2 linked regions of the Homo sapiens genome follow. The protein of the gene in region 2 interacts with the protein of the main gene of each other region in a biochemical or structural test. Each region holds a gene or a part of one and is shown on either strand. Other genes may lie near its edges.

Region 1 (4,914 bases), about 78 Mb from region 2:
GGAAGGGAACTGTCAGGGGAACGGTCTACAGTGAGCGGAGTACTTCTGCAGCTCTCAGCTGTGTTGTAAGCACTAGAACTGTCCTTGTCAGACTTTTCTGGATGCTCCATGATGTCATCTAGCTTTCCCCTTTGCATATCTATGCTGGTGTTATAATTCCGGAATCCTCCATCATGCAATGTCCAGATGTCTCCATACTGGTCTGTCACTTTCTGGAGCCTGTGAGCCTGCATGATATTCTGACACTCAAGCTCAATGTTTCTCAGTTCTTCATTAAGCAACTGTAGCTCATGCTCCACTCCCTCTTGCTCCCCTTGATTGCATTCAATTGTGCTGCTTGAGTAATACAGGTCATACTCTCCATGATTTCGAATCTTGCATTTGAGCTCCAAGAGCTGCCTGAATCTTTCACAGTCCTCATCTGGGTTGCCAATGCAGTCTGAGTCAATGTATTCACCAGATACGAGGCTCTCATTGTACTGAAGTTCAACACTTCCCAGAGTGTCTTGGCTCTGCCCCAGGTCTCTCTTGCTCTTCAAAGATGTGCTATTGGGGTCCTCGGCTGCATTCTCCTGCTCTGAGCTCTCATCATTTCGCAAGCTTTCATCTGTACGTCCTACTCCACTGTCCTTCTCATGGTTGTTGGATGAGGATGTTGCAGTGTCTGTTGTGCCTTCTTCTTCTTCTTGCTTTTTTGGCTAAGAAAATGATGTTGAAAGAACAAAGAAAATTAATGATTTTGGAAGACATTTGTTATTAAAAATCTTGTTTGAAAACCAATGTTTCCTGGCAAAGTTGCATCTCCTAGACAGTTGCTCTAATTTAGGGTCCATCACAATTTTAGAAATAAAGGAAATTAGCTCATGGCAGCTTTTTATACAATGAAATGAAGAAAACAAAACCCGCTTGAATATGGCTATGATATTCACATGGATATAAATAAGACAGAATGCATTCAAATAAGTGATTCTTTAGGTTTTCTCTTACTTGGGAAACTCGGGGTTGAAGGTGTATAAACAAAGTGACTGTATGAATTTCTGAGGTGATAATATGCAAAAGAATAAGACAGAATGTCTAAATAGTCTTCAGCAATATGGAGACCTGATGTTCAGAAGCCACAATCACCTTATGTTTTTCCCCTTAAGTACAGAGGAAACTTCACTGGCTTAGTAATATGCTGACAATGGGTAAGCCAAACATCACAGAGTTTTAGGACTAAGTTAACATTATGTACTGGAGCCTAGGACATTGCTATCTATAGGTGAGGATGCTCAATTCCAAAAGGATTCAGGTTATTAGTGGCAGATTCAGGTTATTAATGACAGATGGAGGCAAAGCTTCATCTTCCAGTGCCAGAATTTCTTATATGTCCAGGATGCCATATTCCTGAATACATGTGCTCTGACCTCAGTGCACTCTAAATCATGTTTCTCAAAAGCAACAACAATGTTTTAGGACTCATTGGGGTTGTATAAGATTTTTCTACTCTTAACCAGGGATTTTTTTTCAAAGATAAATTTTAGTCTATTGAGAATAAAAATTCAGTCCCATGAAAATTTGAACAGCACTGATTGCCAGACATGGGCATAATATCAAAAAAATTTTGACACTTATGTCACATATATGTATATAGGCATGCATGTATGTTTATGTAGTGTGTGTGTGTGTGTGTGTGTGTGTGTGTGAGAGAGAGAGAGAGAGAGAGAGAGAGAGAGAGAGAGAGAGACTCTGGTAATTTTTGGCTTTCATGTAAAACAATTAACTGTAACTGTCCTAATAAGATGCATGTGTAGTTCTTTCTCTGTGAATATGGTAAAGTTACTTTCACCTCTATCAGTCATCATATGATAATCTATAAGGCAGTTTCTAGGTTATATCTGCCTTATGCCTAAGTTTATTCACTATATATATATATAGATAGATAGATAGGTATAGATATAGCTCCATCCCTCTAGAAGATGTAATTACACAATTAAATATAATCAAGCCAACAGCTAGTGCTAAAGAAGGATAGAACGGGTGACAAAAGATATTCTAAAAGAAGTCTAAAAAGGTCTCTCTAGATAATTGTTATTTTGTTCCACAAAAGTAGTGGCAGGATAAAAAGTAACAATATCAAGAGGAGAGAACATAACCATGTATCAGCTTTTCTATGACTCTCAATCTTTCTTTCCCTGGAACATGTTCCTTCATTTGTTGAAAACATACTGAGATTTATCTTAAATGTCTTATTGATTAAAAAATTATAATAAGTAACTGTAACGAACAATGGGAAGCTTGCTGCATCCCTAGGCTGTGACTTATAAGGTGACAATAGTATTTAATATGGCAATGTCTTTATACTACACCATATAACTCTCAAAGAATGTTATTGATACTGGGCATTTGAATTTATATATCGTGTTATTTATAATTATATTTTTCTAATATCTTGTCATGAGCTGAAAAATACAAGAAGACTAGTAATTTTTTTCTTATTTTACATGCAGATGACATAATAATGACAAATTATGCTATGGGAGATGTTGCACAATGTAACGGCATTCATAAGACCAAACATACTGTGTAAAATGAAACTTTCCATAAAGTAGGTTCACATATGGGTAGGTATTTTATTTTTTCAATTGAATATCCCCTTTCCCTTGTTATTGGTCTATGAACAACTGTGAAAATAAAATAGTTTTCTATTCTCAAACCTAGAATTCCTAGTTTCTAATGCAATGCTACTCTATCATTTATCATTTCCCTATGGAATTATTATAGTGACAGGCAATGTTTCTACCTAGACATTTCTAATGTAGTATTATTGTTTATAAGGGCAAAGGACTTTTAAAGGTTTCTGTACTTCTCACCATTTTTTAGTCTCATGGTGAAGAAAAAAATTCCACACAATGAGAATCTAACCTCAGAGGCATCTAGTGTTACCTCACGAGACCTAACATTTGTATTACCTCTGATGAGTAGGCAGCGTTTGACACCGTTGTCACTTTACCTGGACAGGATTTCTCCCTGCTTTCCTTATTCCAACATCCTCCTATCAATTCAGTATCAGGTCACATTTTGTATCTAAGAAAAAAAAAGCCTGGAGCAAGGACTTTCTTGCTTGTAACCAGCAGCTGCCACCAAAAATATCTTTATTTTTGGCCAGTGTTGAAGTTATACATAAAAATTTTAATCTGCCCTACCTATATTGAAAGACAGTCACCACAGTAGCGATATTACTTGTGAGCATGAAATTCTGTTTGTGGAGTGGCCAAACTCCACATAATGAGCACATGAGTATATCACATATGACTATGTTGATGCTATAGTGTGCAATCTAATTATTTATTTAATATGTGGACATGTGCACACACATACACATTTCTGTTATGGGATGTTAGCAAGCTGAATATTTCATTATTCAACATGGTAAAGTGATAGAATGTTTGTGCTGCAAGTTTCTAAGCCTGTCAAGATTTTCAAAAAAATTATCATCTTTTAAGATGTGTTAAGAATTAATGTTGAGGCCAGGTGCAGTGGCTCATGCCTGCAATCCCAACACTTTAGGAGGCTGAGGCTGGTGGAGCACTTGAGGTCAGGAGTTCGAGGCCAGCCTGGTCAACATGGTGAAACCCCATCTCTACTAAAAATACAAAAATTAGCTGGGTGTGGTGGTGGGATCCTGTAATCCCAGCACTTTAAGAAGCTGAGGCTGGTGGACCACTTGAGGTCAGGAGTTCGAGAACAGCCTGATCAACATGGTGAAACCTCATCTGTACTAAAAATACAAAAATTAGCTGAGCATGATGGCGTGCACTTATAGTCCCAGCTACTCAGGAGGCTGAGGCAGGAGAATCGCTTGAGCCCAGGAGGCAGAGGTTGCAGTGAGCTGAGATTGTGTCACTGCACTCCAGCCTGGGCGACAGAGTGAGACTCTATCTTAAAATAATAATAATAATAATGATAATAATAAGAATAGACAGGGCACGGTGGCTCATGCCTGTAATCCCAGAACTTTGGGAGGCCGAGGCAGGTGGATCACGAGGTCAGAGTTTAAGACCAGTCTGACCAACATGGTGAAACCCTGTCTCTATTAAAAATACAAAAATTAGCTGGGCATGGTGGTGGGCATCTGTAATCCCAGCTACTCAGGAGGCTGAGGCAGGAGAATCAATTGAACCCGGGAGGCGGAGGTTCCAGTGAGCTGAGATTGTGCCACTGCACTCCAGCCTGAGCGACAGAGCAAGATTCCGTATATATATATATAATAAAATACATATAATAATGTTGAGAATAGGAAGATAATTAAACAAATCAGTAAACTGAAAACAAAATTATATCAGGCAGATAAATGACATGAGTGTAACATAAAAAATCTAGAATACATTGAACTTGTTTTTGTAAAATGGGAAAAAGACAATAAAAATAATATACTAATCACACTGTGATCTTTTACTAGTTATGAATCCATTAAGGACAGCAGTTCTGCTCATTTTTCTTTTTATTCTCAGTTTCAAGTGGGGTACTTGGAACATATTAGGAGTTCAAAGTGTTTAGTTGAATGAATATGTGACTTCAAGGCAAAATGATGTTAATAATCTCAAACTATGCTATGAGAAATGTTGCACAAGTTATACTATGGGAAATGTGTCAACAGCAGCCATAAGACCAAGGATAATCTCTACGATTATTCAGAATATACAGGTGTAATCACGCCATCCAGTACGCAAATAAAACTGATGGCTTACATCATGTCATCTTCATCCTATAGTGATAGCCTAAGTATTCAAATAGATACATTAATATTTTAGAGTAAAAAAAATTACTTATTGGGGAAGCTACCTCAGTTTGTTTTCAGCTGGCATATTGATAAGCAACACACATTTTTTACTCTTAAATTTCTGCAATTAGTTTGAAGTAGTGCCTGGGTCA
Region 2 (5,451 bases):
CGAATTCCTGGGCTCAAGTGATCTACTTGTCACAGCTTCTGCAAGTGTTGGGCTTACAGGCATAAGCCCCTGTACCAGGGCAAGTTTGTCCTTTTATTGAAGAAAGAAAAATAAATGAACAAAGATGCTTTTTAAAACTACAATTTCTGTGGGTATAATCCTATTCATTTTCATTGCAGGGATGTTTATTTTTTAAGATTTTTTTTTTTTTTTTTTGAGACAGAGTCTTCGCTGTCGCCCAGGCTGGAGTGCAGTGGCGCGATCTCGGCTCACTGCAGGCTCTGCCCCCCGGGGTTCACGCCATTCTCCTGCCTCAGCCTCCCACGTAGCTGGGACTACAGGCGCCCGTCACCTCGCCCGGCTAATTTTTTGTATTTTTAGTAGAGACGGGGTTTCACTGTGTTAGTCAGGATGGTATTTTTTAAGATTTTAAAAAAAGTTTTGATGAATACCACACCTGTTTAACCCTCATTCCTCTCAAGATACACATTTCTGTCACCCCAGATGCGTTAAAACTTAATATCATAAGATTACTTCCAAATAGATTTTTAATTCTTTTGTTTCTGATGTATGTGGAACACTGGTGAAGTAGAAATCCTTGTTTGATTTATGTATTCGTAAGTCAGGGGGACAATAGAGACCATGAAGATTTAGAATTGAATCCCAGTCCCAGCACTAGTTAGCTGCATTACTTTGGGTGAGTCAGTTACCTTTTCTGAGTCCATTTGCTATTCTTTAAAATAGGTTGTAGCCTGTAATGCCAGTATTTTCGGAGGCTGAGGCGGGCGGATTACTTGAGGTCACGGGTTCGAGACCAGCCTGGACAACGTGGTGAAACCCTGTCTCTACTAAAAATATAGAAAATTAGCTGGGCATGGTGGTCGCATGTACCTGTAATCCCAGCTACTTGAAAAGCTGAAGCAGGAGAATCATTTGAACCCGGGAGGCGGAGGTTGTCGTGAGCCGAGATGGTGCACTGCACTCCAGCCTGGGCGACAGAGTGGGTAAGACTCCATCTCAAAACAAAACAAAACAAAAGAAAACAAAAAAAATAACATAGAGGTTGTAGTACCTAATCCACAGGGTTGTTGTGAGGATTAGATGAGATATTCGATTTAAAGCACTTAGCACCTTGCCTGGCTCTTAGTAAACTCCTTATAAAAAATGGTAATTATTGTTAATACTCAGCATAGAATAGTATTAGTTATAATATTAATACTAAATTTGTTTCCTTAATAGTAATTATATTTGGGAAGGTAGTTATGTAGGATACCTGTAAGATGATGAATGATGAAGTATTCTTGATAACTTTTTTTTTTTTCCAAAATATTGGTATTGGGTGTTTAAACAGATGAGAGTGGAAACAAATTGAAAGCTTAGGTTTTTCTGTGGGACCATCCCCATCAGCATTTTAAGTCTTGACATATCTTTCACAAATGAATAGTCTGTCTTTAACCTTAGATGGCTGGAGTGCTGCCACGTTTCAGCCCCTTTATCATGCTACTTTAAAATATCTCCAACTTGCTGGGCGTGGTGGCTCACGCCTGTAATCCTAGCAATTTGGGAGGCTGAGGTGGGTGGATTGCTTGAGGTCAGGAGTTCGAGAGCAGCCCGGGCAACATGGTGAGCCCCTCCGTTTCTACTAAAAACACAAAAAATAGCTGACTGTGATGGTGTGTGCCTGTAGTCCCAGCTACTCGGGAGGCTGAGGCAGGAGGATCACTTGAGCCCTAGAGGCAGAGGTTGCAGTGAGCTAAGATTGTGCCACTGCACTTCAGCACTTCAGCCTAGGCGACAGAGCAAGACCCTGTAAATTAAAAAAAAAAAAAAAAAGAAAAGGAAAAAAATTTCCAACTTATTAAGGGCTTATAGTGTGCTGATTATGTAATAGTTATGGCTTCCAATGTGTCTGGCATAGAACTGGCATGTTTCTGAGTATCTCACTTCAGCCTCATGACAGAGGTAAGGACTATTTTTAATTTAAACTTTAAATAGGAGGCAACAGGCCAGGTGTGGTGGCTCACACCTGTAATCCCAGTACTTTGGGAGGCTGAGGCAGGTGGATTGCTTGAGTCCAAGAGTTCAAGACTAGCCTGGGCAAAATGGTGAAACCCCATCTCTACAAAAAATATAAATAATTAGTCAGGCATGGCGGTGTGTGCCTGTAGTCCCAGCTACTCAGGAGGCTGAGGTGGGGGCATCTCTGGGGCCCCGGAGGCAGAGGTTGTAGTGAGTTGAGATTGCAACACTGCACTCCAGCCTGGGCAACAGAACGAGACCCTGTTTCTAAATAAATACATAAATAGGAGGCAACAGATATAGACAGATATGGAGGTAGGTAAGGCCTTGCCCAAGATCATACACGTTGGGTTTTGCAGATGAGGCCAAGATCAGACTCCATCTTTGGTTGGTCTGACTCCAAAGGCTGACCACATAGCCATTGGGCCACAGCACCTGTGCACGTCAGAATTTATTAAGTATATCTTGTATTTAGTCATTATAACAGGAAGACTTATGGGTAAACCCTCAGTTCATCTCTTTTTAATGCTGAGATCCCCCTGCCCAGTAAAGCTATTATTGCAAGTATAGTATATACCTATCATTTGCCTTGAGTTATCAGGTAAGGATGCTGTTTGTTCTTTTCCCATATAGTGCTGTTTGAATGAGGTTGAGATACAGTAGCAATTTTGTTTTCCATTCAGGTGAGTACCTTAGACTGAGTGTCATTTTGTCTTTTTTACTTCTACTCAACAGGATTTCCTGACATGTTCGAGGTCAGTGATTGTCAGACTTTCTGAGCCAGCAAAATTTCCCAAATTGCTGGGTAGACACAGGTTTTCCAACTTTTTATTTTGCCAAGTAAGGATATATAAAAAAAAAATAAAAAGAAAGACCTATTATTTTCTGGCCCTTGTATTTCATAAAGGGCATTTTAAGAAACAACAAGACAGGAAGAACATCATCTCAGAATAAAGGACCATTTTTAAATTTGAATACATTTAGTTTTATAAAAAAGATATCATGTGGTGTTCATTTTTTCTCATTTCACTGCAGGCTGTTGAAAACTTTGTTAAGAACCAGTACTATATTTGGGAACCCCTGCTTTAATTGATCTAAACTCTTGAAGAATAGAAGAAACAAAGCATTTTATTTTTCTGAGTTACTGGCAACTATTACTAAAGTGACAGATATGGTGGCCTTGAATGCAGTGCTTCCCAAACCTGATTGAGGTCTGACTCTCTTGGGGACCAGGGTCTCATTCTGTTGCCCAGGCTGGAGTGTGGCAGCACAATCTTGGCTCACTGCAGCCTTTACTTCTTGGGCTCAAGTGATCCTTCTACCTCAGTCTCACAAGTGGCTAGGACTACAGGACCATGGCACTACACCTGGCTAATTTTTTTTTGTTTGTTTGTAGAGATGGGATCTCGCTGTGTTGCCCTGGCTGGTCTTGAACTCCTGGGCTCAAGTGATCCTCCCACCTTGGCCTCCCAAAGTGCTAGTATTCCAGGTGTGAGCCACCTCTCCCTGCTGGGGAACTTGTTAATAAAACAGATTCTAGGCTACAGTCTGGAAAATTCTAATTCATTTGGTTGTGGGGGAGGGGGGCATAGGACCAGAGAATGTGTTTGTTTGTTTGTTTGTTTTTCTTAAATTCTCCAGTGCTGTTGTGATTCAAATGCAGCCGGTCTGTTTCTGTTATCAAGTGCTGTGTAACAAAGCACTCACAAAGTTTAAAGCAACAATGATTTATTTTTTCTTAGGATTCTGTGGGTTGGCTGGACTCAGCTAGGTAGTTCTGCTTCATCCTGTGATGTCAGCTGGGGTCACTTGTGGGGCTACATTCAGCTGGGATTATGTCTGGGACTGGAACATGTGGGTGCTGACTGCTGGCTGGGGCACCTTAGTGTTTCTCACATGGCCTCTCTTCTCCATGAGGTCTTTCAGTAGTATAGCCCAGGACTCGTAACTTTTTTTTTTTTTTTAAGACAGACTGTCGCCCTGTCGCCCAGGCTGGAGTGCAGTGGCACGATCTCTGCTCACTGCAACCTCCGCCTCCTGGGTTCAAGCAATTCTCCTGCCCCAGCCTCCCGAGTAGCTGGGATTACAGGCACGTGCCTCCACGCCCGGCTAATGTTTGCATTTTTAGTAGAGATGGGGTTTCACCACGTTGGTCAGGCTGGTCTCGAACTTCTGACCTCGCGATCCGCCTGCCTCGGCCTCCCAAAGTGTTGGAATTACAGGTGTGAGCCACTGCACCTGGCTGACTCGTAACTTTTTTTGTAAGTAATAAATATTTTAGGCTTTGTGGGTCCTGTAGTCTCTGTTGCAACCACTCAACTTGGCCATGGTAGCACAAAAGCAGCTAAAGACAATATGTAAATGATGGGTGTAGCTGTGTTCCAGTAAAACTTATAAAAAGTCCGTGGGCTGGATTTGGTCCAAGGGCTACAGATTGCACACCCCTGGTCTAGCCCAAGCATCTGTGCATGGTGGCTGGCTTCCCAAAAGTGGAAGCTGCTAAGCTGCCTTTTTTTTTTTTTTTTTTTTTTTTGAGAGGGAGTCTCACTGTGTTGCCTAGGCTGGAGTGCGGTGGTGTGATCTCGGCTCACTGCAACCTCCATCTCCCGGGTGCAGGCAATTCTCATGCCTCAACCTCCCAGGTAGCTGGGATTACGGGTGCCTACCACCACGCCTGGCTAATTTTTGTATTTTGGTAGAGACAGGGTTTCACCATGTTGGCCAGGCTGGTCTCAAACTCCTGACCTCAAGTGATCCACCCGTCTTGGCCTCCCAAAGTGCTGGGATTACAGATGTGAGCCACCGTGTCTGGCCGCTTGACAAGCTTCTTAAAGGCACTGCCCTGAACTGGCACAGTGTCACTTGTGTCACATTCTTTTGGTTGAAGAGAGTCTCAGAGATGGCACAGATTCAAAGGCAGGAGAAATAGACTCCAGCGCTTAAAGTAAGGAGTAGCATGTGCCTACAGAATTGGAGGAACTGTTGGAGGCCATCTTTGAAGAGAGACCACCACTATCCATGGCTTGGCACGTGGGAATCACTGCTCTATACCAGGGTTGCAGACTCATGTCTTTGGGGGCCAGGCAGTGAGTATAAATGAGTCAAGTGGGCCAGTTGGAAGATGGAGTCAGACCTGCAGTGAACTCCCAAACACATCTGCTACCGGGAGGGGCAGCATTACTCAGCTCCAGCTCAGCGTCATCAGGCAGGAAGGCGAGGCAGTGTTGCCGGATGTGCCAGTGTTTCAAAAGAAGCCAGAGACTCCATTTTTATTTTTTTGTATGGAATCTCCTGATTTTGAAATATTGGCAGATAATTCAAATTATCTTAAACACTACAGGCCAAACAAAACATATCTGTGGGCTAGAGACAGTCTGCCAGTTTGTAACTATTTCTCCAGATCATGAGTAAATTTGGCTTTACGATGGTCAC

The links. The genes of interacting proteins can lie anywhere in the genome.
Region 1: the proteins of CIT (region 2) and PDZRN4 interact in a test that uses a peptide from one of them, tested with the Homo sapiens proteins (one large-scale study listed by IntAct).

What each region holds. Positions count from the first base shown.
Region 1 is NC_000012.12:41,568,148-41,573,061, reverse strand, and holds part of PDZRN4 (PDZ domain-containing RING finger protein 4), read right to left. Parts: intron 699-4,914; coding exon 1-698.
Region 2 is NC_000012.12:119,869,651-119,875,101, reverse strand, and holds part of CIT (citron Rho-interacting kinase), read left to right. Parts: intron 1-5,451. UniProt on the Homo sapiens protein: Plays a role in cytokinesis. Required for KIF14 localization to the central spindle and midbody. Putative RHO/RAC effector that binds to the GTP-bound forms of RHO and RAC1. It probably binds p21 with a tighter specificity in vivo.